2 separate regions of the Homo sapiens genome follow, and region 2 is linked to region 1. Evidence: fine-mapped expression QTL. A gene starts in region 1. The other region holds a variant in brackets. All regions are shown on one strand. Distances are from middle to middle.

What was found.
Region 2: its variant is fine-mapped to the expression of SCYL3 in whole blood (TOPMed, PIP above 0.99). The same link has a PIP of 0.9 or more in blood mononuclear cells, spleen and tibial nerve.

What each region holds. Positions count from the first base shown.
Region 1 is chr1:169,886,807-169,903,398 of GRCh38, forward strand. It overlaps SCYL3 (SCY1 like pseudokinase 3), which reads right to left and starts at 7,090. Exons shown (of 13, transcript NM_020423.7): 1 at 6,982-7,090; 2 at 1,870-2,084. The coding sequence starts at 2,034. RefSeq lists enhancers at 6,258-6,845, 6,846-7,433, 7,108-7,517 and silencers at 6,528-6,587, 6,828-6,907.
Region 2 is chr1:169,779,827-169,796,418 of GRCh38, forward strand. It overlaps METTL18 (methyltransferase 18, RPL3 N3(tau)-histidine), which reads right to left and starts at 15,081. Exons shown (of 2, transcript NM_033418.4): 1 at 14,989-15,081; 2 at 12,703-14,071. The coding sequence starts at 13,869. The coding sequence ends at 12,751. FIRRM (FIGNL1 interacting regulator of recombination and mitosis) reads left to right here and starts at 15,214. Exons shown (of 25, transcript NM_001320047.2): 1 at 15,214-15,289; 2 at 16,003-16,157. RefSeq lists enhancers at 2,180-2,681, 14,814-15,133. The variant A/C (reference allele first, on the strand shown) is at 8,520.

The sequences.
Region 1 (16,592 bases):
AGAGCTTATACCTGCATTTCATCTTGGTGTATACTAGGATTGTTGTTTTTTACTTGTAACAGTGAAGAAAGTGTATATTGTTATCCAGTAACAGAAAACACTATATATCTGCTTGAAATAATCGTTAAAACTACCAAAGGTGTGACCAACAACCCAAACTCTAGAGAAAGTGAGGCAAGCTAAATATATTGTTTTAGTATTTCAGATACCTAGGACATCAAATTCCTAAAATCTAGCACATCGAATGCCATACATTTCTCAAGTGCTATGACCTAGTTTTTTAAGATTATGAGAAACATTCTGAGAATCTAAAGTTATCACTTTGTTGCAATTTCAAATTTCCCAAATTCATATATGAGGTTTTCAAAGCCACAGAATGGCTTAACAAGAGACAAAGATGAACTATGTGCAAAGACTCAGACATGGCTTAAAAGGGTATCTATGAATATTAAGGGGGAATAAGTCTTCCCTCTCAAGCTTCGCAATTCCTTCAGCACAGAAGTCCTCAAAAATGGAGAGTGGTCTTGCTGTTTTTTCCTTTAAAAACTCGATCTAGGTTATTCAATTTTCTTGGTACGTGCACCATAAAGTGTAACACAATTTTAAAAAAATCTTATAAAGAAAAAAATACTAAGAAAGATAAGTCTCTAGTACCTCGCCGATAATAGTTTATTAAAAAAAATGCACAATCTTATTAGATGAAAATAACAGGAGGCATGTTAGACATTAACTGTAAGAACAAGAAAGCGAAGTAAGGCATTTTGTCTTTTGTAAAATCACAATAAAAAATTCTTAACAATACCTAGATGATGTAAAAAAAGAGTCAAAAATGTGGTTCTACCAAAAAGCAAAATTACCTAGCAAGAAAACAGCCAGCTATATACTTTTTACCACCACGCATCTCGAGAGAACTGTTACCCATCTTTTTCTTTAGGAACCATCTTATAACAATTTCATGCTTGATCAAAAATACAACATCAAATAAATTACTGTTGTGAAGACCAAAATTCCATTACTAATATAATCCTTTATAATCATTTTAAAAAAATAAAAACAATTTAGAGTCCTATGAAACAGACATCAATGTTCCATACCTGTTGATAACTAAGGGACTCAAGGTAATAGAGATTATAATTCTAACAAAATCAAGATATCAAGTTCAACTTGAAAATAGCATGCCTACCAGAATAAACACTGGAGAATTAATTTACTAATACAATTACATTTTCCATTTTAGAAGATGATATATCTGAATTCCTAAATTTCCAAAGTGCTAGCTATCCAAAGAAGCATCAACTAATGCCTTCATTTTCCCTAATTCAAAAAGACACTTGGGGTTATTTTATTGACTTACATTCCACAGTAAAATCATTTTTTCTGATAAGAGGCCAGGATCTCCTGAGTGTGTCAGACAGCATGCTAATGCACTGGCACCCTCTGCCTGGAGCAACAATTATAAGGCATGAACTACAAGGATCTTTTCCCTAAGGAGGAAGCTGAAGCCTCCAGAATGATGTCAATACTTAACTGCATTTTGCTAGACGAGATTAACTCCTTATATAGCTCCTTATATCTTATATTAGCTACATAAAAATGTCTCCCTAACTTTCTCACCAGAAAAATAAAATATGATGATAAAAGCCATTGTACTGAGTTTTATGATGTTTTTTGGCTACAGGTATGGTACCTGACCATGTCATGCAAATGGAAGATAGGCCCATGAAGTAAGAGCAATGTTTTGAAAGGACATAAATAAAATACTGGTCCTTATGATCTTACCTCCTTTGAACTTTACTAATTTCATATTTTTTTAAAAGAAAACAAGATAGTAAAAAGTACTAACTATTAAGTCGTCACCTATTATGGTACCTTGGCAGCTTTATTAACCTTGTCTTCATTTTCTCTCTTATACACAAAAACTGAAGCAAATTTGCCATCTTGCAGTACAGCGGGATAAACAGCAAGTCCAGAGGGTAAGGTAAATGGTGGTTCTCTCAGTGTATAGCTCTTTAAAGCACTGTTCTCTGATCCCATCCCTTATGCAGTGAGGCAGTACTGCCACTCTTCCTCAAAGCCAAGCAGATCTAAAAGAAAACAGAAAACAATTTCAAACATTAAATCCCTATCTGCAACATCAACAAGAGATATCCAGACATAGCCACCCCAAACTACTAGTTTCTTTGATCCTCATAACTAGGACATTTGACAGTAAAAATGGTAAACGCTCTGCAAGTTACCAGCAATGGTTGTTAATTAACAACTAACAGCTCTAGAGAAAATGCACATTACTAAATAGTCACAGGTAGTTACTGTCCCTCCCCAAACTCCACCACATACAAACTTTCAGAGTGGAAAGGCAATCAAAAATAGAATAAGGTAATTCATACTTCCTAACTCACTTGTATATCCTCACTCACAAAGGAAAATGTTGTAAAAATATTACTCAAAAACAATAAAACTTCTGTATGTAGAAAATAACTTAAAATTATAAAGGAAAACAATACAAATTGGAGAATACTTATAATGAGGAAAATCATGGTTTTAATATTAATATGTTGAAAAACATTGTTAATATGATGAAAAACATATTAACAAATGAAGAGCTCATATAAACCAAGTAAAACACTAAAACACCAGTACAATAATGGGAAAGAAAACAGACAACTCATTGAAGAAACACAAATGACGATAAACATAAGAAAAAGTACGATCGCACTACTCTTCAAAGCTATCCTAAGTAAAAAGGGGAAACCGCAAAACTGAATCTCAAATAATCTCAATTGCTAAAAAAAAACAAAAGCCCACACATACACAGAATTCAAATGCAACTATGACAAAATACTTCAGTGCTCACCTAGTGAAGGGGCACAGTTAGAGGGATCAAGGGAGAGGAAAGGATTATCATGATGTATGAGGAACTTTTGGGAGGATGGATATATTCATTATCTTGATGATGATGATGGTAACGGGTGATTATGTCAAAACATAAAACTGTACACTTTTTTCATTTATTCTGTATCAATTACGCCTCAAAGTTGTTTTGAAAAGAAATATATGTATACATACACACAGACTTGAAAAATATATGTTGAAGTATTAACAGAGGTTTCCAGTGGAAGGTCAGATTATAGGTAATTTTATACACACACACTTGCCTGCACCTTCCAAATCTTCTACAATATGAACAGCTTTCTTGACAACAGGGATACAAACTCACAGGGTGACAACAGGTAATGTGCAGTGCCCCAGCAGTACTGGCAGCCTGGCAGAGGGACCTACTGTGCGTGCATGGGACCTACTGTGAGAGGCTTGCATTCTGAAGACAGTGGCTATCACAGAGTTCCAACCAGGACTGCAGTTTCAGAACTGTCAGATCATGCCACTTATCGTGAGGAACCAAGAGCCTGAATAGTTTTGTGGAAATCTCCATATTTTTCAATGTTGAATCAAATGTTTTCTAAACCTATATAGGCCAAACAACGTATGTCTGAAAAATCTGTGGCAGTCAGTTTTCAGTGGTGGCTTTACCATAATATAAAAATTAGAAAATAGAGTTCTTACTAACTCTGGCAATGTAGAAAGCAAACTGCTACAAATACGGCCAATAATTCTATGTAGGCCTTTAAAAATTTGTTTAAAATCTGTATTCTTTGGACAAATATAAACTCAATAATCATTACACATTGACCCTCTACTTGGAATTTTTCCCCACTTCGGTGAAATTCCATACAACACCTTCTACACTGGGTATGTAATGCTGCTCAAAACACATGCCTAGAACAAAATTTAAAGTGCCTACCGATCCACAACCATCGTTATATAAGAAACACATGTATAAAGGCTAAAGCTATCTAAAATTGAAGATTTTCAAAATCTAAAAATGTTGCTGAGAATAAGAACTAAATCTGCTTTGTAACAAATTCACTGAATTCCTACCTACCTGGCAATGTATCTTTCTTAAAAATGACAGAGAAGCAAAAAACAGTACTAAAAGAAATGCCAAGTATGGCAACTATGGTAACATTCACCTTTCTACTGGGACTACAAATAAAAAGTTTATGTGGGACCATGGGTAAAAGCAACAATGCTAATCCCTCTGTTCTGGAGATAGAGTGCTGGCCAGATTGTCACAACCTCCTGCTGAGTAGGGAGGATTATGCTTAGCACTTGATCTTGCCACCTCTTCTTGGGCACAGTTAATGTTGGCAGGTACCTATCCTGGGCCAAAGGGCGGTTAATTCACAAATTAGCCATCAATTTCATGGCCTGAGTGAAGAGATAAACTGGCCAGATCATTGTCTCCCCCAGGAATTTGAACTAAGAACAATTTTTGCCTATTAGAAGCATAGCCGAAGGTAGAAGGATGCTATGAGGTGGAGGTGGAGCTACGGCAAACCAAAGCCACATGAAGTCAGAAACTTTCCAGAGGAAGTCAGTTGGTAGTAAAATTTTAAAAAGCAAACACTGGGACCGTAGCTTAGTCATACTTAGGGGGCACATTACTACTATCCATCTCAAGACTACCGGAAGCCCAGCCTCAAATCTAATTCCACCCAGATACCCTAACATCCCATTGACACCCTTACAACCAGCCCCCTTTTCCTCAGGTAACTTGAATGGGTCTATGTTCTTTGAAACTAATTGCCATTTCATAGGCAGAAAGCTCTACTTGGTCTCCAACTCCTGCCTGAAAAGCCAGTCAGACTGGAAGAGTGAGTTACAGAAGTGTTACTTTGAAAGTATCTGAAGCTAGTCTGACCGTCTCTCTCTCACCCACAAAACACAGCTTTCCAAAATCAACACACAATTAAGAGAAAAGCAGAGAATAAGGGACTGTATATTAATGAATATCTTCTTCGCAGGAAATCATGCTGTTTATTTAAGTGTTAATATTAATCCTCATGGGAGATAAGACTGCCACCAGGATTCAGGGTCAGTGCTCTGGCTGATGAATGGCAGTCACCAGAGGCAAGAGAAAGGAACATTTAATTTACTTAGCTATTTCTAAATAGCAAAATACTTCCTTGTGGGAACATTGGCCTTGCAATAGCTATTAACCTTAGATTTCATATGAATTCCACTATAATTAACAAAGTTATAAAAGCATTAGGAAGTAGTTAAAATTCATTTTTCTTACTGTATTTTAGGTCTAAGACTAAAAAAATCACTTAAAAATTAAAAAGGGATGACTCAATTTCTTGAGAGAACTGGAAAGGATGCCATTTTCTTGTTTTGAAAGCATGTTAACTTTGACAGAAGTCCACTGATACCATCAGTGTAATACTGACAGTGGTAAGATTATATTGTATGTTCCCAGTGCAAACTTTATTGGGGGAAAATTAAAAAGGTGTGCTGATTATTGCAATTTGAGAATGTTTTGAAGCAGTAATTCTTCACACTAATATATCTAAAGAAGCACAAATACTGTTATATGAAGAAGTTTTTTTGTTTGTTTTTTGTTTTAAATAGAGATATGGTCTTGTTCTGTTGCTGCTGGCCTAGAGTGCATTGGCGCTATCCTATCTCACTGTAACCTGGAATTCCTGGGCTCAAGCTACCTGCCCTCCCCAGCCTCCCTAGTTGCTGAGATTACAGGCATGTGCCACCATGCCCGCCAGTGCTTTAAAAATGATAATTCAGCTAAAATTGATTTATTGAAATGTAAGAAAAACACTTGGCCTTCCAAAATGCTTTCCTGTTGTTTTGAGGACGGGGAAAACACAAAATCTTGCTCATTAGCTTTGAAATTAAAAAGTCACAAGAAGGTAGAAAAGGATATCCTAGTATCCCGTAATAGGTATTTCGTAGCACTTAGCATCTCCACTCTATAATAAAATGCTGAGTTGACAGTCTCTGACTTGAATATGCATCAGTCTTCCCTTTAATAATCTCCCTCCACTCTTTTGCCTACTTGGGCAGCACATAAAATTTCTGGACCGCTTGTAGATTAAGAAAACCCTTGTCTAGGTCAAAGGGCAACTCATACACTCAACTAAGAAACCCGTGTGCTCTATGGAAATGTTTCTACCAAATATTTTCTTTTCCCAGCAATTACTCGAGACTACCTTGGTCCTAGCTCCCTTAGCTTGAAAGTTCCAAAGATAATGGCTTGCACTCTGAGTATTAAGGATGCACTGTACTGGCTGATATTCTGGTATCCAGCGGTAACGTTACTCCGGCCCTTGCTTTCGTGTTTCAGGTATATATTCCCTCTGCGGAACTCAGTCCAGCATTGCTAGCTGACAAGCAATACACAATTAAGTCTTTATGGACCAAAATAATTGTGATTTCAGCTCAAGATACATTTTATAAGAACATGGGTCCCTAAAAACAGCAGTTAACAGTGACCCCCAAAATTCGAGACCCGACTCCGAGAATTTCACATGGATTCCTGAATATGCTCTTCCGAGAAATGTTTCATCTTTATTCTAAACAGAAAGCACTATGCCAAGACAGGAGCCAGCTGGGCCTTGGGGGACGGGCACTGGTCTTGGATCAAGAATGAGGCCGCCTTCCCGAGGGCGGGCGCGCCCCCAGGATCCCCCCGGGCTCGGGCACTGCCGCCCCGGGACAGTGACCCGCCCAGCCGAGCACCCTCGCCCTGCTTGCCGCGACCCCGCGGGGTCACTGAAGGGCCGAGGCGCCGCTCTCGCTTCGCTGGCCCCTCACCTTCCACACCTCCCTGCGAGGACCGACTCCGCGGCCGCCTTGGAGAGCTCTGGCCGCGGGCGCCTCACCCGTCGGGGGCCGCCCGCGAAGCGCAGATTACAGGGCGCCCCACAATCAGCAAGGGGAGGCTGCTCCGAAGCTGAGAGCACAGCTCAACCGGCCGCCGGCGCCGCGCCGAGCTCGCTCCCGCGCGGGCCCCAGAGCGCAGACCCGCGAGCGGGGCGCGCGCCCGCCGCCTCCTCCCCGCCCGGCCCCTTCCCCCACGGCGCAGTCCTGCAAGGACTGGGGGCGCAGCGCAGGGCTCCCTGTTACCTGCAGGAAGGCGGCGGGGGAGGAGGCCGAGGGTCTTGGCTCTGGTACCCTGTTGGCCCCCCTGTTGACACCAACCACCCCTGCCTGCCTGTAAGGCTGTGGCCACTACACCCACAATCTTCTGGGGGCCGGGTTTCTCCTACACCATAGAGACGGGTCCGGAAACGGGACAGAAGGCCCACCTTCCTCCCTCCGACGCCACCAATGAGGCCAACTAACCAGGAACCGAGGTAGAGAGGCCGCACAGCTGAGTCTCAGGCCGGTGCCATCTTAAGTGTGGGCGCCGCGACGATACCGAGTTTCACTCACTGCCCCAGTGGTCTAGTTAGTCCACGAAGATGCCCCCTTTCTAGATGTGTTGGTCGAATGCTTAAGTTTGTCTTGACTTGAATTTTTAGGCTTTTAACAGCACAGTTTTAATTTCATTTCCGCCCAAATCCAAAATGGCTGCTGGCCACTTGTAGCAAACAGTAGAGGTGCAGGGCGGAGAAAAGGAGTACGGGAATTAGCGAGGACTTTCAGGAGAGTGACGTCACTCAACCTGTAGCTTTGATTGGCTGGGCTGCGAGGGTGGAGTCGTGCAGAGCCGCTGCTGGCGGAGGTCGTGGTGATCTCGCTTGATCTTTGAGAGGGAAGGTCCTGAATCACATTTCATTTAGCAAAAAGTAATATTTGAAAATTTTAATATTAATGCAGTAGTTTTGCCCCCCTCCATGCTTTCTGCAGTGTCAGTTACCTGTGGTCAAACCTTGGTTCAGAAATGTTAAATGGAAAACTCCAGAAATAAACAATTCTTAAGTTTCAAACCGCCTGTATTCTGAGTAGCCCGATTAAATCTCGGGCCATCCACTCTGTCCCACCCTTGACGCGAATCATCTGTCGCAGGTAGCCGCGCTGTGTACAGTATCCACTCATTACCCACTCAGTAGCTGCTTTGGTTAACAGATGCACCCGTAGTATAGCAGAGATAATGAGAGATACCACCTGCTTATGTTCAGGTAACCCTTATTTTACTTAATAATGGCCGCAAAGCACAGGAATTGTGCTGACAATTTGGATATGCCGAGGAGAAGCTGTAAAGTGCTTCCTTTAAATGAAAAGGTGAAAGCTCTGGACTTAATAAGGAAAGAAAAAGAGTCATATGCTGAGGTTGCCAAAATCTATGATAAGAACAAATTATCCATGAAATTGTGAAGAAGGAAAAAGATTCGTGCTAGTTAACTAAGCACCTATCATGCACTGTGGCTGTAACTTTTGTAGTTTGAGGTGCAACAGCAAAAGACGGAAAAGGCATTACATTTGTGGGTGGGAGACATGAACAGAAAACGTATTTCAGCTGACCGCAGTAAGTTTTGCCAGAAAGTGTTGAGCCTATAGGAAGACTTAAGAAAGGGATCCCCTGAAATTAGGCACACCAAGCTATTTACTGCAAGTAAGGGATGGCTACACAGATTCAGGAATAGGTTTGGACTGAAAAACATAAAAATAACTGGAGAGGCCACATCTGCTGATGAAGAAGCTGCCACATGTCTGGCAGAGTTGAAGACATTGGTTAAGGAGAAAGGCTTCCAGGAGATTGATGGATAAGTTAGGAAAATCATTCAGGTAGCAATGAAACTGCCTTTGCAAAATTATGACTAAGGCAGTTAAAGAGATCCAATTTAACCAACTCCATCTTGTCCTTAACCTCCATGCTATCCTTGTTCATTCCTGGGCATAGGCTGAACTAACTTTGGAAGGAAATTAGTTTATAATTTACAGTTTAAAACAAAAACAATAAAAGCCCTTTCCCAAAACCAACCTCCTTCTTGCCTGGGGTCTAGACTACCAACATTAGCCACAAGATTAGAAATTATGGTTTGGGAGTCATGCAGCTGGAGGCCACAAGATTCTGACCCTCCCTAAACTGCTCCTGAGATCAGTGCTTCAGATGTTTTGCAGACCCTGCACTTGATGGATCAGCTGGCAACACCCAGATGATAAACTGGCCCATCTGATCTTGTGACCCCCACCCAGAACTGACTCAGTTCAAGAAGACAGTGATGCCCCATAGTTTCATCTCCGACCCAACCAATCAGCACTCCCTGACTTACTGCCCCTCCCCACCCACCAAATTGTCTTTAAAAACTCGACTGCTGGAGGAGACTGATTTGAGTAATAATAAAACTCTGGCCCCCCACACAGCCAGCTCTGCATGAATTCTTTGTCTATTGCAATTCCCCGTCTTGATAAATTGGCTCTATCTAGGCAGACGGCAAGGTGAACCTACTGGGCGGTTATAGCAAGACAAGTTGGTGAAAAAGGATTTGTCAATATGCTTGATGAAGAGGTGGGAGAACATATCAAAGGCCTCACTATCCATTCTGAGGACAGGTTTAACCTTCTCAAACTAGAAGCAGGGCTTAGTCACCCTGGACAGTCTCTAGTTCTGTGCCTCCTCCCACTTCCTCTATGTGGTCAGTCCAGACATCTGCCTTGTATGACCGCCTCTGGTGACCACCTCCCTATCGAACCATCAGGTACAAGCTGCTTGCTTCATCCCCTTGACCCCTATACCCCACATATACTTTGCAGATATGCCTCAGTGACCACCTCTTAGTCACAGTGGGACTAAGATGTTGGACCCAGGACCACAGTGAAGGCTTTGGCCCGCAAGTCCCTCTCTCTGTCTCGTCCCCCTCCCACTGGTTGAGCATGTGTGTCCCCCTTCTCATTGGCCCTGTGAGGCATGCTGTCCTCTTATTATGGATCTGTAAGTAATGAAACTGCTTCTATTATTTCACATGTTTTGTTCACCTCCTCTGTGTCTCACCTGACCTATACACCCACACCTGACTTGTTTCCTGGTTAGGGCTCTCCTAGAGAGTGGCTGTCTTGGTTGGAATAAACCAGACACGGGGCAGACAAGAGCCACAAATGTGCCTGCTAATATAAACAAGCTTCCTGTGAGAGGGACCTCCTGTCATGGGTCAGACACCTAGGATTTAGGCCGTCTGCCAGGATAAAGAAGTATTCCATGGAAGGCACACTGTAAATATCCAAGCCCCATCACGGAAGAGCTAACGTTTATAACCACTCCCAGAGAGAGACCTCGAGACCGAATTAGAAAAGAAATACAACACATAGACCCTAGGTTTACTAGCTCCAACATCCATTCCCACTCCTCACCCCCTTCTCCCTTGTTCACCTTCGATAAAGAAGTTAAGAAATCAAAAAGATCACTTTCTGAGCCTACTTTCCCGCTAGGGTGGTCACAAGTTCTGGCCGGTGAGACATAGCAGAAGTTGGGAGGAAGATAGACAGTGGATTAGGAAAGGTTTTTCCTCCCTATTAAAGGAAATGGCTGTGGGTGTAACAGCAGCAGCCACCCAAGCACCAGGAGACAGCGGGAGAACATGCTGAGGATGTCGATTTGAAAGACAGAAGGATTCTCTTGCCTTTCACACTATCCCTCGAGAGTTCATAACTATGTTTTTCCTCCTTTTACAGGAGGAGTAGAGATGAGTCCCTTCAACCAGTACGTGAAATCTTCTGCAGTCAACACAGCTACTTGCTGGCCCACCCTCTTCCCAGTGTCCTCACCTCTGAGTCTTTGCTGGCCTTCCCACCCTGTTCCTTGCTCCCTAATCTTATGTCCAGATGTGCTGAGCTCCAGGGTATCCTCTATAATCATTCATCAGCCTAGAGGACTCTGTATTTCCTTTCATTTCCCCAAGGTAAACCCACTCCTCCAAATATCAATGAGAAGGGAATATTTTGCAGTGAATGGAGTAGGAGAGAGATGGGAGGGAGTTTGACACTCAGTCCTTCCCCTCTTCACTCTTCATCTACTCACCTATTTGCTCTTGATGTCACTCAGGTCTCTGAACAAATGTCACCTGTTCAGACTCTTAAAGATTTGGGGCATTGAAATCACAGGCTAACTTGTATATTTTTGTCCAACAAAGATGCAAATCTTTCTGTCCAGTGGAAAAGTTAACCCCAAAGTTTATTCTTATTGCACTAGAGAGCATTTCTCATTTTAAAATCTAATCTAGTAATCTTACTGTATTTCTTTATAAAATTGCTTGTAAGTATGTAGCTACACAAATGCTCTTTGAACAGTCTTAATGTCTTTTTAGTTTCCTCATTAACTAATGTGTTCATTTTATATTTGCATGAGAGTTATAATTATATTTTGAAAATTCTACTTGAATGCAATTTATCAGAGACAGCTCCCCTGAAAACACTGTCTAAAACAGCACCTTACCTGCCTCTTCCTGTCTTTTGACTTTGCCTTATTTTGCTTAACACCAATGCACATATTTGTTCAGCATCTCTGTCCCACAGCTAGAACATCAGCTCCCTGAAAACAGGGCTTCCTTCCTTCATTTCTTTCTTTCCTGCCATATTTCTAGCACATAACACAGTGCCTAGAACATACTAGGTACTCAGTAAATATTAAACACACAAATGAATTTACTGAGAGCACACTGCATGTCCCAGGCACCCTCCCTACATCTCTCTGCCTCCCAGCCCTTACCCCACAGAGCCCTCTATAGCTCTGGTTCCAGTTCTCAGTTCCCTGGAGCTGCTCTCTGAGCTCCTTCTGCCTTTCTTATGCATAGAAATCTTGTATTCCCTCACTGATTCCTCAGTCCTCATTTTAAATATGTCTAAGGCCAGGAAAGAAAAGAATCTCCAACAACCTGAATCCGCTGTCCTTGGAATGTGGCTGGTGGGACAGTTAGAAACAAATAGTTTGTTTTCTTAATAGAAATAATTTTTTCTTGTCATACTGTTTAAGGATCAACCTGAATTTTACTTCCAACCAATCCTCTTCTTAATTCAAATCAAAACATGTCAATGGTATTCAGCTTGACTTTTAGGTGTTTTTTTAATTAATCTTTTTCATGTTTCTAACTTAGATTCCCAAGTAGACTATAAGTATCTTGGATATATTCCTGGTTCTATAAAAGCCTTAGCCATCCAACTTAATTATTTTTTTCCAACTTGATTTGAACTAACTTTTTTACAAGCTCTACCTGAAAACCAAAGAGAGTAAAAGTTATTCAAGTGATTTCTATTTAATGTTCTACCTCAATAATTTGTGTAATTGCATAATTGCAATTAGAATCTGGAAGTGTAAAGGGGGAAACTTGCATGAATGACAAACCCTCCTTCAGGCACATTTCAGATAAATACATATAGCATCCATAAGTAGTGGATACCTTATAGAAAACTGAACTGGACCTAAGCCACTTTGTTCTCTCGTTGTTTTTAGGAACTTTGCATAGATATTGGAAGATTTCTCTAATGAGAAGTATGTGTTTTCTAAGTTCCACCATAACCTTGCTACCACTACAAAGAGAGAATGAAAGCAAGTCTGAGGTGGGATTCTACACATTCACACGTTTATTAGCAAGGTTTAAAGACAGGCAGTAGAGCTGTTATACAAACTCAGTGAGGTTCCACTTCCTTGTGTAGGAGCTTGAATAGCATCTTGCATGAAAGGTCCATCCACTGCAGGAAGATGGGACAGTATTCTAATAGCAGACTCAGCTATCCTCATTAGAGCTGGGTGACAAAATCTTCTTGTAATCTTCTCCATATGGGGCTGGTCTGAAATCCTAAATCTAGGGCACCTTTCCAAAGTGTGTAGATTGCTAGACTCACTAGATTCTCATACTCTGATCATGTAAGGCATGGCAACATTTCTATTCATTCTGTCCATCTTGAAATTACTTATTTTGGCCATGAAAATTCACTTTTAAACATCCTTAAAGCCACTAGTATTGATCTGAGTTAGAGATAGCTGAAGTGTTTGTAGTATCTGCCCCAGGAGTATAGACTTCTCATTGAAATCTTTCAGATGCTAAAAGCCTCTGAAGTGTGAATTGCTTCTCAACTTCAAAGAGCCATGAATCATCTTGGAATCATACTCCTGGGAGAAAGATTTGGGGCAAACAATGTGTGCATTATATATCTACCTCTTCTTTGAAATACTTCAGCCTTCAGGGAGATACAGATGTGTACTAACTTAGATCTATCCTGTAGGGGTGGTTAATTAATATTTGAAGGCAACATGAGCATCCTCTGGAAGCATGTTAAAAATGCAAAAGCTGAGGCCTCACGCTAGATTGTCGAGTCAGAATCTACATTTTAACAGGATCTTTAGGTGATTTGCAGGCACCTTCCTTGCAGGAAGGTTTGAGAACTGCCCTAAATGATCTAAGGCCTCCCTCCTTTGGCCTCACTGCTATCCTCCTGCTCACTAACTCTGGTCCATGCTCAGTGGCCTCCTTGCTGTCCTGTCAGCATGCCAGGTGAGCTCTTGCCTTAGGACTTTTGCTCTAGCGCTTCCTTTTCCTGTCATTCTCTTTTCCCACATGTCCATTTGACTAAGTCTGTTACTTCTATTTTTTGTTCAGATCTCGTCTTCTCAATGAAGTCTGTCCTGATCCACCCTATCTAATTCTACAACGTTTACCTTCCTTCCTGCTACACTCCTGGTGCTTCCTATCCTGTTTTCTTTTGCTTTTTCCCTCCATAGCACTGACCGTCTTATAAACAGCCATATACTGTATTTTCTAGATTGTAAAAACTATAGTTTTTCACATTTTAACATCCCTGAAGGTCAGAATGCATTTTACCACAAATGGCATAATATAATTTGTCAATAATTTTTTCTTAGTGGTACCAAATATATTGATGCTTCCTAAATGTGATGGCATCATATATTTGATGAAATATGACAATTTGCTTATGTATTATGGCTTTTGGTTTTGAGAGAAAACAATTATCTGAAACTTTAAAATAGGCAAAAGAGGTTACTGTGGCTTTCTTCCCATGCAATTCTGGATTAAATTCCTATTGACTAGGTTATTTTACTACTTCTTTATTACCTTTTTAGGGGCAGAGGCTAACTTTTTCATTTTCATCCACTAGAGATGTAAATAAGTTTGTCCAGCACAGCAAATCATCTTAATGGTTACAGTTTATTGTCCTGTAAGTTATTAACCCAGCAACCTGAACCTGACATGTCTTTATCAAATTGCCTACATATACACCTATCTTCTCAGCTGCTATTTGGACTAGTTTAAAATCTTACTGATTCCCTCATTAATAAAAACATTAAATAGAGTCTTTGACATGTGTTCATTTTATATTTGCCTGAGAAACCTCATTGTACTTTTTTAAAAAAATTACATTTTAATGGTTTATTTCTCCCCTGCTAGAATGTTAAGTTTCACAAGGGAAAAAAATCTGTTTTTGTTCAATGATCTGCCATAAATGCTTAGAACAATGCTTGGAACATTATAGATGCTCAACAATTATTTACTGATGAATGAATGAATGGAAGTATAGAAAAATATATACTAGTCTGTTAACATTCACCATGTAAGGTAGGGAGAGGTTACTTTCTTTATATACCTTTTTATATATCTGCATATTGTTTTATGTGTTACAGTGAGCCTACATTGTTTTTGTTTATTTGTTTAAGAGACAGAGTCCAGGCTCTGTCACCCAGGGTGAAGTACAATGGTGCAATCATAGCTCATTATAACTTTGAACTCTTGGCCTCAAGCAGTCCTCCCATCCCAGCCCCTCAAGCAGCAAGGATTACAGGCATGTGCCACCACATCCAGATACATTTTTTAAATTATTTTTTGTAGAGACAGGGTTTTGCTGTGTTGCCCAGGCTGGTCTTGAACACCTTGCCTCCTGCTTCAACTTCCCAAAGTGCCGGGATTACATGCATGTATTTTTGTAATTTTAAAGATAATTTAATAAAGAGATGAGGAACTGAATGTAAAGTTGTATAAAGGAGGAAAAATAATCGTTCCTTTTCCCCCTCTTAATTTCATTGTCTGGGGCCCCTATAACAAAGATTGAGAAGAGTAAAACAAACAGAAGTTTATTCATGTGTATTTCATATACACATAGGAGATACTCAAAGAGGTGGCTTAGAACTCAGGCATATATGGCATCTTCAACAAAGAAGAATAAACTCTTAGAGAAATAAGACAGAAGAAAGGATGGCAAACCATGGTAAGGCAAATAAATGGAAGTTTTTAATGTAGGTTCTTCTAGTGTTGACAGAAGCTGCCTTTAGTGATCAAACTTTGTGTTTCCTAGTGGAGAGGGGAGAAGGAATACTTTTGTAAATTTATATCTTGTTTTGAGGGAAGTAGGAGTAGGATAGAGAACTTTTTAAAAATATCTGCTCCTTCTCAATTGCCTTCAGCTGAAAATAATCCTTATGCCAAGGAGGCATATTTTGGGCATATTCTAGTCTCCTACACTTAAATTGGAAGCTTTTGAGTCTTACATCTATAAAACAGTGCCCGTAGCCTGTAATTCCTCATATGATAACAATCTTGAGGGTCTTGTGATAGTAGCTCCAAAGCATTGGTAGGAAACAGGAGGGGATACGGCATGGTCACATTTCCTGATAAGGTATAGATGGCAGTTAACTTTACAAATTTATGCCAAGAAACAGTAACTTATGATCTTTAGCTAGTTTCTCAGTCCTCTCCAAAGCTGTGCTTCCAGCTCAGGACAACATAAAAACCATTTGCTCTGTTTCCTTAAAAAAAAAAAAAAATTCCCTGTTGCTCACTGTACTATTCCAAGTCTTTCTCAGGGCTGCCATCTCTCCTGAGTCTCTCCCCTCCTCCCTGCAAACAAACACCCACCCCAGTCTCAGTTCTACCTCAAGGAAGAAGCAGCTAGATCGGGGAACTTACTGCTTATGGGACAAAGGGATTCAGTGCAATGTCTGTTCCATCATCAGCAAGTATATTAAAAATGAGTAAAACAAATCCCAGTGATTTTAGACCTCCTCTGAAAACTTTTGCCCTCAATTTTGATACTAGTTTCTTAAAAAATTATTTTCCTCTTTTCTCACAGCAATTGTTTTCTCACCAATCTTTTGAATTTTTTCATTTACTTTTTTTCCTAACTTTGCCTCTCACTGTATGGAATCTAAATGGAGTTCATTAGGAATGAATTTATTGATCCAGTGACATTAGCAGCAGTAAAAGCCACTACGGTGTGTACAACCAAGTGGCAAAGACACGTGTGTTCCCAAAACACAAGGAATAGCACCACTGCTATCTTCTCACCATTTTTGATAAGAGAGGTGCGGAGGAAGAGGAAGGGCTTATTTGTCTTTTTTATCTTCTGCAAGAAATAGGAAACCAAGAAACAGCTAAAGGAAATCCGGTAGTGATGTGCTGAAATCAGAGTAGCCCTAAACCAAGTGTGTAAACACGGCATTTTAATAATAGGAATTCAGACCAAGAAGGGTAATTAGGAATTACATGAAAATGTGATTACACTAATAAAGTTATTTTAGAGAGAAAAACTAAAACAGAAATTGGTACCACAAAATTAACTCTCCAGACAAAGGTTGGGCCAGGTGTGCATTTGGTTAGGTCTCAGAGGGGAGCTCAATTCAGGGCACTCTTTCTGCTCCCCGTGATAGTAGACAGTGAAGTCACTTGTCTGCTGGGTAGATGTGTGCATTTGGAGCTTTGCTGTGTCTTCATTTTGAGTACTTTTATTGCCGCCTAAAAAATGCCTGGACCAATGAATGGCTGAACAAAATGTATTCCAAACAATGGAAT
Region 2 (16,592 bases), 110 kb before region 1:
TGCAATGAACACACGACAGAATCCAGGGGGGATGAAGATGGGTGCTTTGCAGGAAAAAAAAATTAAAAACATCTGAAAAAGCTTTTGTACTAAAAGAATGTGATCTAAAAAAGAAAGCAGGAGAACTTTCTGTCTGCACTTTACATCAGAACAACCTTGGCGTCTAGAAGCTGTGCCCTGTGGGAAGTGGTGGTGCTTGGTAAGAGATGCCAGGACCAGTGGTACCCACTGGGAGCACTGCCAATACCCAGCAAGGAGCATGGGTGCACAGTAAGGCATTGCACTGTGATTCAGCATAAAATAACAATAAGGGAACGTCACGGAGAAAAGGCCAGACTTCCTTTGTTTAGAATGTGGGAAATGTCTTCTGAAAAATGGTAGTAAAAAAGCATGCTTGGATGGTCCACTCCAGGCAAAACTGACTAATCGGGGGTCAGGGATACAACCCCTGCATCATATGTTTGTTTCTGTTGGGCTGACATGAGGTTCACTGTGACCACTGTGGTTTAACCCCATAGTCTCCTGGAAATACAGCCAGGTCAAGAGAGCTCCACATAAAACATAATCAAAAAAATAAACTCAAGTTTCCACTGATCAGCTTTTCACAACTCTTATCCTTTCACTAACTTTGGAGCAAGATTTGAGAATTGGATGGCTATTTGAGGGCTATTTCTGCGCTTTAGTTCAATGTTTTGTTCTTTCTTTATTAGAGAACTATGGTTTTTTATTATATTTACACTTTAAGTTCTAGGGTACATGTGCACAACGTGCAGATTTGTTACACAGGTATAAATGTGCCATGTTGGTTTGCTGCACCCATCAACTCGTCATTTACATTAGGTATTTCTCCTAATGCTATCCCTCCCCCAGTCCCCCACCCCCCGACAGGCCCTGGTGTGTGATGTTCCCCTTCCTGTGTCCAAGTGTTCTGTTTATGTGATAGATTACGTTTATTGATTTGTGTATGTTGAACCAGCCTTGCATCACAGTCACTTGCTTACAAGAAACAAACACTTCACAGATGGATCATTATGTGTGATAAGTGAAATCCAAGGATTTATGCTCAGAGGTGGGCTTAACAGGTAGGAAGAGCAGTATTTTCCTTCAACCATGAGTGTATGCAGGTTTTTCTTTTCTTTTTTGAGATGGAGTCTCACTCTTTTACCCAGGCTGGCGCGCAGTGGTGCGATCTTGGCTCACTGTAACCTCTGCCACCTGGGTTCAAGCAATTCTCCTGCCTCAGCCTCCCAAGTGGCTGGGATTACAGGCACCTGCCACTGTCTCCGGCTAATTTTTGTCTTTTTAGTAGAGATGGGGTTTCACCATCTTGGCCAGCCTTGTCTTGAACTCCTGACCTCATGAATCATCCTTCTCAGCCTCCCAAAGTGCTGGGATTACAGGCATGAGCCACTGCGCCCAGCCCACAGGTTTTTCAAAGACTAAACTTAAAAAAAAAAAAAAAATTTCCCAATGAAATATAAAACTAAAGTGCTAAACTGTGATAGACTGTTTTACAAGAATGCCAGTTTTCACAAGTGTCTATAGAACATGTAATTTAGATAGGTAAGATGAAATTTTGATAATATTTGATGGCAAATTTAAACAGGTATACAACAAAAATAAAATTCTAAGCCCCTCAACCAACTGAATGGACTCCTTCTCTCAGCCAAAGGAATACCAAAGTAAACCTGAAAAACTAGTTTTGGCCAGGATTGGGGGTAGGTGGGGGAAGCCCAACATGACTCATTATTCTCTCCTCCCTTTGGAATTCAGGCACAACTGAATGTCAGCATTGACACTAAAACACAGATCTTAAGACTGACAAGCCAGACTCTTTGTAGCAGAGAGCCAGGCCCTGGAAGAAATCAAGTTATTTTATCCCAAAAAATATTTCTTTGATATATTTTCAAATGGCCCTGCAAAGCTGTCTCTTGTGGGGAAAATTGACATGCTGTACAGAATTTCCTTCTCTTTCCAAGTTTTTACTGATCCAGGAGAGATTTAACTAAGAGGCTAGCATGTTTTTTTTTTTTTTTTTTTGAGGCGGAGTCTTGCTCTGTTGCCCAGGCTGGAGTGCAGTGGCGTGATCTCAGCTCACTGCAACCTTCGCCTCCCGGGTTCAAGCGATTCTCCTGCCTCAGCTTCCCGAGTAGCTGGGATTACAGATCCATGCCACTATGCCCAGCTAATTTTTGTATTTTTTGTAGAGACAGGGTTTCACCATGTTGGCCAGGCTAGTATTGAACTCCTGACCTCGTGATCCGCCCACCTCGGCCTCCCAAAGTGCTGGCATTACAGGCGTGAGCCACCGTGCCCAGCACAAGACATTTACCGTCTATTCTCTCTGAAGCTACTATCTAGAGGCTTCATCAACATAATAAGACCCTTGGTCTCCACAACTCCTTATCTTATCCTATTAGTTTCTACTGATTCCAGGTCTTTAGATAATAACAACTCTTTCAACCAATTGCCAATCAGAAAGTCTTTGAATCCACCTATGACTTAAAAGCCCCACTCCTTCAAGTTATCCCGCCTTTCTGGACTGAACCAATGTACACCTTATATGTGTTGATGGATATCTGCCTGTAACTTCCATTCCCCTAAAATGTATAACATCAAGCTGTAACCCAACCACCTTGGGCACATGTTTTCAGGAACTCATGAGACTGTGTTGCAGACCTTGGTCACTCATATTTGGCTCACAGTAAACTTCTTTAAATATTGTATAGAGTTTGGCTTTTTTCATTGACACAGGAAAAATAAAGAATTGGAAGGTCTTTCATCAGTCACTGAGCCAGCTTCATATCTGACTGAGGTCATACAGTTCAGTGATTTGTAGCTTTGCTACTTAGATTGCTATCCATTATCTAGAAGCATCAGGATCACGTGGGACCTATTGGAAATGCAGACTTTCCTCCTAGAACCCAGGACCTTGGAATATTCTTGGCACATAGTAGGTGCTCAATACATATTGAACTCCTAGGTGCAATTCATTAATTCATGAATTAATGAATTAACACGCTCTCAAAGTTTAGTGCTTTTTCACAGACTAGTCTTTCTGCCTCTTAAGCACTCAGCTCACCACGCTTCCAGTCTCACTCCCCTATTAGTCTGATTAAAATCTGCTTACATGTGAGTCTGAGATCAAGTGTTATCTCTTCTGAGAAGTCTTCCCTCACTGGCCCAAAGGAATTTCTCCTCTATTTTAGCACTGTCCCAGTTGACTTGTCATTATTCTAGTCTTTTTCATATTAGTTGTTTTTCATATATATGTTATTAAGGAAACTAGTCATTTCCCCTAATAGAACAAAATTGCTGGCCTTTGGGGTTGGCAATGGAGGGGAGGCTCTTCTTGAAAAGGGGGAAGAGTGTTCTCCTAATATTTTTCTTACGAGATTTATGTTGCTCATCTTTAGCCTTTAGTCCCCCATTGCCTGCCTACAGTTGGCAGAGACCATCTGTTCTCTCACTGTCAGGAACTGTCTCAATTCTTGAAGTTCAGAGTCAAAAAAGAAGCAAGTTTTCCTAGCTCTTTGATCAACTTTCAAAGTTTTACTTCCATTTGAAAATTTACTAAGTCACCAGGAGATGGTTTATACTGAGAAATATCCACTCATACTCTTCCTCTTCAACTTTCTTCCATATACACCCTATTACAGGGATATAGTCTTACTCTATAGCTCAAAAGGATGACCCTATCAGAAACCTGCACAGTATGTAAAACATTCTCACCAGAGGTTCACTTGTGTATTTCCACCCTAGAATGGAAGCTCTACAAAAGCACAGAATGTATCATTTTAACTTTAGATTCTATTTTCACACCCAGTGCTTGACACATGATTTGAAGTTAATATTTATTTATCAAGTGATTGTTTTAAAATCATGACTCACTCAACAAAGTTATAAGAATAAGAATAGTGTTACAGAATTGGTATACACAAGCTGACCATAATCAACACACCTATTATCATTTTTTTGCGACAGGTTCTCGCTGTCTCACCCTGGCTGGAGTGGAGTGGCATGACCACGGTTCACTGCAGGTTTGAACTTCCAGGCTCAAGCAATCCTCCCACCTCAGCCTCCCACATAGCTGAGCCCACAGGTGTGTGCCACCATGTCCAGCTAACTTTTTAATTCTTTGTAGAGACAGGGTCACCCTATGTTGCCCAAGCTGGTCTTGAACTCCTTGGCTAGAGAGATCCTCCCTCCAAGGTCCCCCAAAATGCTGGGATCTCAGGCAAGAGCCACCATGCCTGGCCATAATCAATACACTTTTAAGAATGCTAGAATGTTATATCAGATGCATACTTCAGCACTATCTCAAGCAAACTGGGGTGTGGGTTATTCTACATATAAAGTTCAGCAGTGTTGTTCCACAGTCCCAAACTCCAACTGAGGTCAAATGTAGGGTGCAGCAAGGTCACTGGGGCTGTCATCAAGGGCCTCTCCTTGCACTCTTGCCAACCCTGTTTCTTGATTGTCTCTACCACCATGAGTCACCAGCAATCTCCCACAGTCACTTGTTTAAAAGTTCACAAGTATTGTGTGAATTGCAGGCAACCCCTTGACTCCCTGATTGCCTGGTCTTCTTCCTTGGGCTCTACCATTTTTTTTCCCCAGCACTCTTTCTGCTGCTCTAAATTTTAATTCATGCAATTCCATATGTGTTTCTCTATCATTCTTCATCTCTTTCCTCTCCCTTCCATCCAATTTTGTTTGTCTGTTTGCTTGCTTGCTTGCTTTAATACATTTCTCTTTTTCTGAGAAGGCTTGAGTCCAAAACTCTCAGTTACCTGTTGTTCTGTTTCCCGTTAGTTAATCTCCGAACCTTCATAAATTAAATCTGACAAAGTCCCCTGACTAACAAAGGAAATGCACAAGTCACAGTAAAAGGGGCACACACAGAACACAAATAGACCCAGGGTCTTTTCTGTTCATCACTCAGCTTTTTATAGGAGATCCAGGAGAAATGAAGTGGAAAGGGAAGTGTGTTGAGTTACTATACAACACAAGAGTAAACTTTCTTATAAGTGGTAATTTTTTTTTACAGGAATAATTGAAAATGGAAATTACCTTCTCTACTCATAGTAAGTACTCAGTGCGTTCTTGATGGGATGAGAATGTGTTTGAGCTTTAGTGTAAGGCAGAATTCTGTTTAGTCTGCCAGTATTGGAGAAAAATAAAACACAAAGGGACTGACATGTAGGAAGTGGCACCTGGGAGGGTCTCAATTCTTCCTATTACAAAAATGCCCCAGAGAAATAAAAAGCTTGTGTACATGTTGAGATGGGAGAGTTCTCTGGCCCCCCTCGCAGGATGTGTGACAGTGGGGTGGCTCTCTGCTGCGCCACCATGAGCTCAAACCCCTCATAGGAGGGGGAGCACACAGGCAGGAAGGTGCAGGAGCTGGGCGAGCTCTTTGGGCTCTGGCCCCGTGGTACTGTCTAGAGGTGGGTGCCTGCAACTCCTGAAAGCCCAAGTGGGCATGTGTTACAGTGCACTCTTTCAGCTTTGCTGTCTGCAGCTTAAGCGTTAACCAGCTCAGTTTCTTCTTGGTACCCAGGTCCTTGTCTGGCATCCAGGAAGAATCAGGTTACACATGGACTTGAAGGATGAATGTGGGAGTTTTATGGAGTGGTGGAGGTGGCTCTCAGTGGGATGGATGGGGAGCTGGAAGGGGGATGGAGTGGGAAGATGATATTCTCCTGGAGTTTGGCTGTCCAGCAGCCGATCTCCTCTCCAGTCGTCCCCAGCCTCTCGACGTTCAGATGCTCCTCTTCTCTCCTTCTCTGCCATGCTGTTCTGCCGTTCATCTGCCTGTCTCTCTCTGGAGCCTGGAATTTGGGGTTTATATGGTACACAATAAGGGGCATGGCAGGCCAAAAGGGAACTTTTTAGGTGCAAAAAACAGGAATGCCTCTTCTCACTTAGGGCTATAGATTTTCAGGCTTGAAGGTGGGGCCTTTACCAGCGAACCTGTATTTCCCTGTCTCCTGTGCATATCAATGTAATCAAATACTGGGCTGATCCAGGATGTTTCTTTAGACCAATTATGGGTAAAATAATTTACATTCAGGTTTTTATATTTGCTTTTGTCATTTCTTTTTAAGCAATCATGTAAAATATCTATACGACAGTAATAGATGATAGCGAACCTAATTAAAATTACCAGAAACTTAAGAATCTCTAATGATTTCAACTGTAACTAAGGTTATTTCTCTTTATGTTGAACAATGTTGGGAGATAAGACACAAGAGTTTCTGAAGTATTTCAGAAACACAAAGAGGGAGGTTATATAAATAATATTTTTTTCCTACTTTGGGAAAATGAAAGCTAGTCACAAAGTTAAACGAGTGGTTATTTTAATATTTAAAATACAGGCTTGGATGTATTTCCTGTTAAAGAAAATAAAATGCAGAATATTCAAAACGTCTGACCACCCTTCTAAGAAAATGCATCTCTGAGGTATTTTTCCTTAGAAGTTATTGTAAAAATCCTGGAGAAGCTTGAACACAGCAAAGCAAACAGGATGCAGAGTTTAATCTGTGGAAAGCTTAGGGAAGAAAAGCAAATCATTAAAAATAGGTCTTCCTCTGAAGATTTTTAAAACGCAAAGAGGGTGGAATAGCAATGATAATAAAAAAGCTGGCATAGAGAGTGGCACAATTTGCTGTGCCACTGAGCTGACTGGATGTGTTCTGAATTTCTAGGCATTAGTGTACCTTTCCACACGCATTCTCCCTTTAAAAAAAATGCCCACACACTGAATACTTTTTTCATGCAATTTAAAATAAGCGCACCATCTAGTTTACAGAAATTCACTAGAAGTTATTTATCCTAAAATAGCAGAGATCTAGAAGAATTTTGAGCTCTAGGACATTTTAGACACACAGAAAGAAGAATCTGGACAAGTCTTGACCAGACATGACAGAATAGAAATTTCTTTTCCTATTTATCTCTTTGAATAAAATTTTCAGGATCTTACAGTGGACAAGTTTGTTATCTACACATTGTGAAGCACATTGATTTCTCCTCTGTAGCCTTAGGAAGATCTGAGAGGTGACTGAGCTGATTGAATGATCCGTGACCGCTCTACTGGGACCAGTAGTAGAACTTTACTGGTGGAGACCTGCTGGAGGTTTGAGAGCAGACTTTGAAAATTACTAGAGCTACACAGATACTGTGTGGCTAACTGGATTATGTTTAGAGGCTTTCAGAACTATGCTGCTGCTGCTGCAGTGTAGCCAGGACGCACAGAGAACATCTAAGGCTCTTGAATGGGGCGATAGGGACAGATTTCAGCAGCCATCTGACTTCAGTGCTCATTTTGATGCTTTCCCTGCAGGGTGCAGTGTGCAGTGTGCAGTGTGCAGTGGTGGGAGGCTCACACAGGAATACTTGCTTCTGTAGCCCTAATTTCCGGTTCAAACTCTGCATTCACCTTGACAGATTCTTTCCTTGGCCAAAATTTAGTTAGGCTTCTGGGCTTTCTCTTATGCCCACCTGCAGACTTTTTGGTAAAATCCAGTTTTAGTAAAGAGCTCTGCTAAGTCAGTTTAGCAAGAATCCCCACCTCAAAAGTCACTATCTCCCTCCCTGGTAGTGTCTGGCTTGTCTTCAGCGAGAATTCTATTAGGTTCTGTTAGATTAGAATCCTCCTTACCCTTGATGCTTCCTCTTAGTATTTTTTCATCCACTGACTCCTTGACCCACCTTGCTCCTCGGCTATAAATTCCCACTTGCCCATACTCTGCAGTTAAGACTATTTTCTCCCCACTACTGCAAAATCCCATTGCCATGGTCCCTATACTATCTCAATGGTAATGAATAAAGTCTGCCTTACCATGCTTTAACAAGTAACATTGAACCATTTTTTTCTTTAACAATCTGCTGCACAATGAGATTACTAAAACTTTATTCCATTTTGCCATGCTGGATGTCCTCAATGGAATGGCTCTTGTGAGCACCAAATCATTGTGAGAAGGAAAACCCATCTCTTACAGCCCCCTGTAACGTGATGTATGTTACATGTGATGTATGTTACATAGTTTTTTTTCATGTTGATCACTTTTTGCCCATTTTCCTATATCTTATCAGTTGGAAGACTGTGGAAGTTTGTAGTACTAAGCCACAAGATGACTAAGAAGAGTTGAAAGGGCAAGTGGGGCTAAAAACAGATTTTGTTTGACTTACCCCACCATTCCCCCTATCATGGGGCTGAATCTGCCTGGAGGAAGGAGCATCTTTATCTTTGTACTGTGAACCACACAGTCTAGCAGCAGCACAGCCAAGGCACTTGGGGTTTCATGAGACTAAGTACATGCAATTCTATTGTAAAGGCTTAAAATATATACAACTGACCCTTGAACAACATGAATTTGAATTGCATGGTCAGTTATACGCAGATTTTCTTCCACCTCTGCCACCCCTGAGACAGTAAGATCAATCAATCCTCTTCCTCCTACTCCTCAGTCTACTCAAAGATACTTGAAGTCTACTTGAAGATGACAAGCACAAAG[A/C]CATTTATGATGATCCACTTCCACTTAGTGAATAGTAAATATGTTTTCTCTTCCTCCTAATTTTTTAACACTTTCTTCTCTCTAGCTTAATTTATTGTTAAGAATACAATCTATAATACATATGACATACAAAATATGTCTTAGTTGACTGTTTATGTTATCTGTAAGGCTTCAGGTCAAGAGTATGCTATTAGTGGTTAAGTTTTCGAGGAGTCAAAAGGTGTATGTGGACTTTCAACTGCAGGGGGGTGGGCACCCCTGCCCCCATGTTGTTCAAGGGTCAACTTTACTGCCAAAGGCAAGCCTTTACATCCACTTTTTCCATCCCATCAGTAAATGGAAAAAGATAGCTACAGTATCCCTGCGTCAAATCTTTTTTTTTGCAGATCACAAATTGGCCACTCACCTTGCTCTGTGAGGGGTAAAATGCCCCACTTTCTTTAGTAATATTTAAGTTAGATAATATTTAAGTTATAAAGTTGTTCTTTGTAATCGTTAATTGTAATTTTTACATAGTTTCTTTCAAACAGAAATAGCATTTTTGTTAGATAACCTCCCGTATAGATGATGAAACTCCTTTTAAGGGCTATCTGAATTTTAATTCCTTGAAAAGGCAGAAATTGGATAGCTAGTAGTCATAAATGTACTGTGGCTTCCCCCAACCATCTGGGCTATATAGAAGCTGCATCCTTGGACTGCAGTAGAGGAGTCTTACAAAGCACAGAGCAACTTCTCTCCTGGGTTGCGCTAGTTATGATGGCAATTTTAAATGTGTACTTTTACCCAAAGAAAATCCTTATTATCAACAATCACAATGCCATCATAACCATGGTATAAAAAATTCAAAATGTCCCAGCTGAAGTGGAGGCAAAGACTCAAGTTCATGGAGTCAGAGTTTCCTTGCTATTCCTCTTTTTCAAATGACCATTTAGTAAGCACCTGAAGAAAATACTATGGACGGCATTGAAAAGTGAAGATAGGTTTAATCTTCTCGAAAATCTAATTCTCCAGATGAAACGCTGACACTTATCCACCCCACAGACCCTATAGCAGATGTGTCACTGGCCATCACATTTGACACAGAGAAGTCATAACTCAGTCAGCACAGAGACATTTCCATGAGTTTCTGAACCATGGACAGAACGTCGTCTGTGGGACATGAAAACTGGAACTTAGAGGACAGGCACATCTGAGAAATGGGCAGTTTAAAGGCAGAACATAGCACATATGTGACTGGGTTTTAGAAGCAAATTTACAAGACGCACTCTTCTTCATCCTAAATAATCTGCAACCAAAGCTTCCAAAAAAGACAATTTAGGAATGCAGAGGTGAGGAGTAGGGAGGGGAATGGGATGAGAGAGAGTGGAGATTAATGGTGGGCAGAGCGAGGTTTAGAACTTAGTGGTTTCTTCAGGTTCTGAACTGAAATTTGTATACTGTAAAGGCACAAACACCATTTTTAACAAAAGTGAGCAGGACTTCCTATCTGGTTCAGAAAATAGGTGAATAAATAGTACGAATTATTAAAAATAATAATTTCCACTTATACATAGGAAACTTGATAGGAACCATGATAAATGCTTAACTCTTAATCTTCAAGGAACTCTGCTAGGGATATAATATTATAAATCTTGTTTTGCAGATGGAGAAATTGAATTTTAACCCAAGTTATCATAACCCTTAAATGATTAAATGATACTGTTACATGAGAAAGCTGCGTATCTGTTTCCTGGATTTGTAGCCATAATTTGTGTCTCAAGTCCCTTTTGCTGCCAGCTATCTTGGGTAGGTGTGTTCCCTTTGGGCTGTTTGATACCCCCACATTTATCTTTTTTTTTTCTCTTTTTTTGTTGAGAGAGTCTTTCCCTGTTGCCTAGGCTGGAGGGCAATGGCGCGATCTCGGCTCACTGCAACCTCCGCCTCCTGGGTTCAAGTGCTTCTCACGATTCTCTTGTCCCAGCCTCTCTAATAGCTCGGATTACTGGCATGCACCACCACGCCCACCTAATTTTGTATTTTTAGTAGACAAGGGGTTTCTCCATGTTGGTCAGGGTGGTCTCAAACTCCTGACCTCAGGTGATCTGCCTGCCTTGGCCTCCCAAAGTGCTGGGATTACAGGTGTGAGCCACCATGCCTGGCCCCAAATTTATCTTTAATGCCCCAAATTATCTAGTTCCCATGACTGGGCTTCTGCTTTGATCCTTTCTGCACTTGCTGGACCCTCTCCCTGGGAAATGAGATTGTGTCCTGAGCCCCTAGTTAGAGGCTATGTCTCTGCTGTTCCTGAATGGGCCTCCTGGATGAGACCTCATTAAAAGTCTAATTCTCTTGGAGAATTGAGAGATACCTATTTGTCTCAAAATCATTGAAACCAATTAATGTATTATGAGCCTCTATCCAGTGATTTGTACCTCAATTCCCCAATCCAGCTGTCAAGGCCAATTTGTTCTACCTTACCTAGTAGGTAAGTCTGGAATTGTAGCTGTGGCATTTTCAGTAATGGTACTCTAGGTTAGCAGTCCCCAACCTTTTTGGCACCAGGGACCAGTTTTGTGGAAGACAATTTTTCCATGAAGGGCTGGGCAGGGGAGTGGTTTCAGGATGAAACTGTTCCACCTCAGATCATCAGGCATTAGATTCTCACAAGGAGTGCGCAAGCTAGATCCCTCACACATGCAGTTCACAATAGGGTGTGCACTCCCATGAGAATCTAACACCGCTGCTGATCTGACAGGAGACAGAGCTCAGGCAGTAATACTCATTTGCCTACCGCTCACCTCCTGCCGTGCAGCTCAGTTCCTAACAGGCCACGGACCAGTACTGGTCCACGGCGCAGGCATCAGGGACCCCTGTTGCTAGGTATAAGCATCTGGCTGCTGCATGTCTTCTGTGTAGCTACATCTGTATGTGTATCTGATGAGATATAAATTATTTGATTATAAATTACTTTCTTCATATTAGAGTTGTGAATGAGTATCACATATAATTATACATAAACTAGGAATATGCTTTTTAATAATGTATATAAGTAAGTTTCCTTAACTATGACTTTCATCTTAGCGTAGTAAGAGGGTGCTAAGAAATATTTGTGATGAAAATAGGCATTGGTAGAGTTGAGACCACTGGGTGATGAAAGAGTGTAAAGATTTTAAAGCCTTCAGATGCTGGTTCAAGGTGAGAAATGTGATTGGGAGCAAATCAATTAACTTCTTGAAGTCTTATAGGGCAGTTATGAATACTTAATGTTAACATATGTAAAGCTCTTCTGCCCTGTATACAGTAAATGCTAGTTAGCTATTATGATCACTACTAAAATGGGGATGACATAAACCTCATAAGGTTTTAAGTATTATGCAAGATACTATACAAAGTCCAGTAAATATCACATTCAATTGAATCCATGATGTCCGATTATTTTAGCTACTTCCAAGAGAGAAAAAAATGCTGTCAGTTTTACTGTTCTTATAGAGAGCAAGGCAGATCCCAATTCCCAATGTGGTAACGTGAAAATTTTTGCATTTGAATCAACAAAACACTTTCTCCTTTCTTTCCTACTATTTAACAACTGGTAAGTCTATACTCCCCCAAATCTGGAATTCTCCTTTCTTATTCTTTTTCCTCCTACCAAGACCGCAGGATCTTTTACTTGGCTATAAGGGGTAAACCTCAAGTAGTACAAGTTCTCTGTATTACTTTTATACTCTGTCACAGATTCCCTTTGTTTCCTCATCTCCATGTGAATTTAGTTAAATTCTCAGCATTCTGATCCTTACTATACAAGGTAAATGAATATAAAAACAAAACGAAACAAAAACCTCTTCCTATTTACATAAGGCCCCAACCTAATATTTAGTGATATATATTAATGTGAACAAGGAACTAACGAAGACTGGGAAGAAATTCACAGACTTGAGAGAAGAAATGGCAGGATTTCCTGGGAACAATTTCATGTAACGTCAAAGGTGGTAAAAGGTCAAATAGAATGAAGATGGAGAATACCGGATTTTCTTACAAAATGATTTCCCAGGAGATCTCATCAAATGCACGAGGATACCTTCTCAGTTTCACCTAGTGAGTAAAAGACTGGTAACATAGCTCACTTACAATTTGGATAAACAAAACTAAACAAACAACATCAAAATTTCAGAAAAAATAATAGCAAAACAGAAATCAAACACTCAAATTTTTGGTCCTTCTGTTTATTTCATTTTGGATACTCAGTGAATGTTAATTAACCAGGAAACTTAAAAGTTATTTCAATTATGAACCTCTTCAATCCTTCATCAATTATTTTGAGTATTCTGGTCTTAAAAACATCTCTTTCTTCTACAAACTTCTGAAAGAGATGAACACCTCCACCTACACCAAAATAATGTGCTTTGCTGGCCAAAAGTACACGTCCATTTTTACTTAACAGTCTAAGGAAAGTCTGGTGCAAATTACTATAATAATCTGGGTTGTAAATGGTTTCTGAGGTGAGAATGAGATCATATTTTACAAAAAGTTTTTCACTACTTAGTACAAGCTTACAAAACTCAGACCACTCACCAGAAAAAAATCGGCATTTATATAGTTGTGTTACTTTTGGTTTCCTGCATCTTTTCACATCTGGCTCATTTACATCATTTTCTTCATCTTCCAAAGTGGAGTTAGCTACTACATTAGGTAAGGTTACTTCATCAATCACCATACTGTTATAATCTTGAAAGTGAATTTCTTTGGACCCTCCCTTGAATGCAGTTATACCTAGTAAACCTGATCCACAACCAAGATCCAAGACTTTTTTCCCAGCAAATTTCACTTTGGCCTTTGTGAAATAAGCCAGGAGGTCAAAGGTACATTCCCAGATTTTTAAGCCTCCCTCATAAACACCTGTAATCAGATCAGAGTGAGAAGAAAAGCTTTTTGAAACTATGTTTTCTCCAGGGAAGTTCTCTTTCAACAAGATGGTTTTCACTACTGATAACTTAACATGCTGGAAACCTGGTAATGTTTCTATGACTTTATTTTCTAACATCTTCTTTAAATCTTTAGGCATAGCATGCTCTTTGGCAGCTCTCAAGGAGGGCTGTTTTCCATGTGGCTCCAAGTTCCTTGAACTGCTGGCTGCACTGAGTGGACTGTCTGTGTCTTGAGAGGGAGCTGCATTTTCCATTGACTTATGTTCCCACAAGTGATCCTGAGGCAAGTCAAATTGTTCTGCAGAACATTTTCTGTCCCTCTCTTCTCCTTTTTGACTTTCTGAGACTGACAGCTCTTTTGAGGAATCCAGGGTCAAAGCTCCATCTCTAATGGGTGTTAATTCATTTTCCAGATGGTCTTCTATAGTGAAATTAAACTGAAAGGTCATCCTCTTATTAAATGCACACAATCTTTAAATTCAGATTCTTCAACTTCTGGATAGAATTTGATGATACACACAAATCTGCCTCAATTATTCAATTAGTTTTGTTGGGCCCAATTTCTCTTTAGCAGCTTATACATGGTAACAAATATTTAGAGATATTTCCAAATGACTTTTTAGACGTCTTTGGTCCTCTTTCCAAGCAGCTCTGGAAAGAAAAAAAAAAAAAAAAGAAAGAAAATGATGATTAAAGCAAAATGGCACATTTCACTAAAGTGTAATATTAAACAGCCACCCCCACCCCTCCCTGTCCCACCATACAGCTGCTTTTTCTTAAAAAGTTGTGGGGAAGAGAGAGAGATAAGAGATTTGGACACTCATACACACCTTAAGGGTTCCAAAGTGGGAGAAGAAAATCAACTATAAAAACAAACAGAAGAACAACAGCAACCACCACCACTACCACCTGGACAAACATAAAGTCCAAGATATTCAGACAGGACAGCCTAGCTACTTGCTGTCTTTCAGCTGTCTTGATTTGTGTCCAACCATATTCACCCCCTAAGCTTCCAGAATAACTTCACTTCTGTCTTTTACAGAAGAGGTGCAGTATTTTATTTTGGTAAGTCAGCGTCCCTTTAAAAACATGCATAGGTATGGCCTGGTGTGTGTAAATTCATCCAAGACTTCACTCCAAACATTTAGTCGAGAACAGCAGCCCTAAGTGTATAGAAGTGGGGGTAATTTGGCAATAATTAGTAAAGACTAATTCGGTGGCAGAGCAAACGCAAACTAGGGCACTGCAGTAGTTTGGAGAGACCTGTAGAAATAAGAAGCAACTTTATTGAGAATCTTCTATCTACTGCGCTAGACACTATACCATCTGCCTCAATTTTCACAGTTCTGGCAAGTGGGATCTTTGTTCCCTTTATACAAGATTTACAATTTGGGGGAGAGGCGGGTCACCCAGTCCCGCGGCTAGGAACGCGCCTCTTTCCTCTCCCATCACGCTGCAAGGCTTGGAGTCACTTCCGGCTGCAGGTCCCGGAACAAATCCGACCCCAGAAGTGGGGACTTCTGGCCCTCACCTCCCCATTTGAATGTAATGTTTACAGTGATCCAGACCTGGGGATGCTTGCTTCCCGACGTGTCCTGGGATCGCGCTTCTGAAAAAGCTCACCTCACAACGCCTCCTCCGGACCTAAATCGCGCACCAGTGAGTCGAGTCCTCCAGGGGCTAGAGAAGCCCGACTTTCTTTCCGGCCTTGAGGGACCCGGGCTCACCAAGAAACCAGCCGCCCTCCTCTCTATGGTTTTGGAGCCGGCGGAGAGCGCGCAAGGGTTGGCGGGACTGCGAGTTTCCGGTCTGGGCTTTGGCGGGTCTGGTTTGAAGCTCTCCTGTTTGACGAAAGTATGTCTCAGGAAGGTGCGGTCCCAGCTAGCGCGGTTCCCCTGGAAGAATTAAGTAGCTGGCCAGAGGAGCTATGCCGCCGGGAACTGCCGTCCGTCCTGCCCCGACTCCTCATATCCTTCCTTGGTTGTCACTTCTACCTAGAGAAGGGTGTGGGCGGGTCGCGAACCTTTCTCTTCTGTCCCTTCAGACCCACCGCCAGGCTGGGTTATATTACCGCGGCCTGAACCCCCTCTTTTCTTTGTCAGTGAGTGGGATGAAAAGTGAGGGACTGGAGGGGAAGCGACAACCGTGGTAGATTTAAGTAAGGCTTTGGCCCTGGAAAGCCTCGCGGACGTGTTCTGACCCAAGGTTTTAGCAGTGGATGTGGCGTTTTCTTCCATTCCTTCTTTCAGTTTTTCTGTACTCGTTGCTTGCAATTAAGTGTAAATACTTTTGCTAGTGGATAATGGGGGAGGCAAGGACTGAGACCTGCGGTATGACGATAGCTCTGGCTCTTAATAGTTTGAGGTAAAGCGAGATACTCTGAGCTTTTGTCTCCCGTAAAAAGGGTGGTGAATATGAATAAGGGCTTTCTTAGCGTTATAAGAATTAAAGGGCATAGTTCTGTGGTGTGAAATCTTTAAAAGATGTTCAGTAAATAAAAATGATTTTCCTCCTTCCCCTCTCAGACCTCTTTTTCTTCTTTCTTTCTTTTTTTTTGACAAGTTCTCACTCCTCTCACCCAGGCTGGAGTCTTTCTGAAAGAGTTCTTCCGCTTGTTGTTGGCTTTCAACTGTTGGATTTGAGGCGCTTAGCGCCTTCTTCGTCCGGGTGCAGCACATTCTTGATTGGTCTCATGCCTTTGTGGTTGTAAATGTGCCTGGAATCCTAGCCTTTCATGGTAAACCATATGTATATGTATCTTTTTCACAACATTTGAGCCCAGCTTTATACAATTACACTCAAAAGAAAAAAAGTAACCTTCACTTGAGAGAATCTCAATACTGCACAAATATTGTGCAGCTAAAGCCCTATGTAATCACATAGAAGTCATTCACCTAGGCATTAGCAAAATCTCAGAAGGTGCCAAAGCCCCCTTTTTTAGTTTTTGTGTAGGTACAGAACTGCCGTCTTCAAGGAGTTTCAACTTGAAAACAAATAGCCACCCTCAAAACATTCAAAAACACTTAAACTGCGTGCATAATGTGTGTGAGACATGGTGTTAGGCTTTGGGAGAACAGAGACACGGAACGTGATTCCTCTTCTTCCCCACAAGCTTATAGAGAGACTTCATTAAGTTGAAAGTCAACATTCCCACCTAGCTTTGCACTTCAAA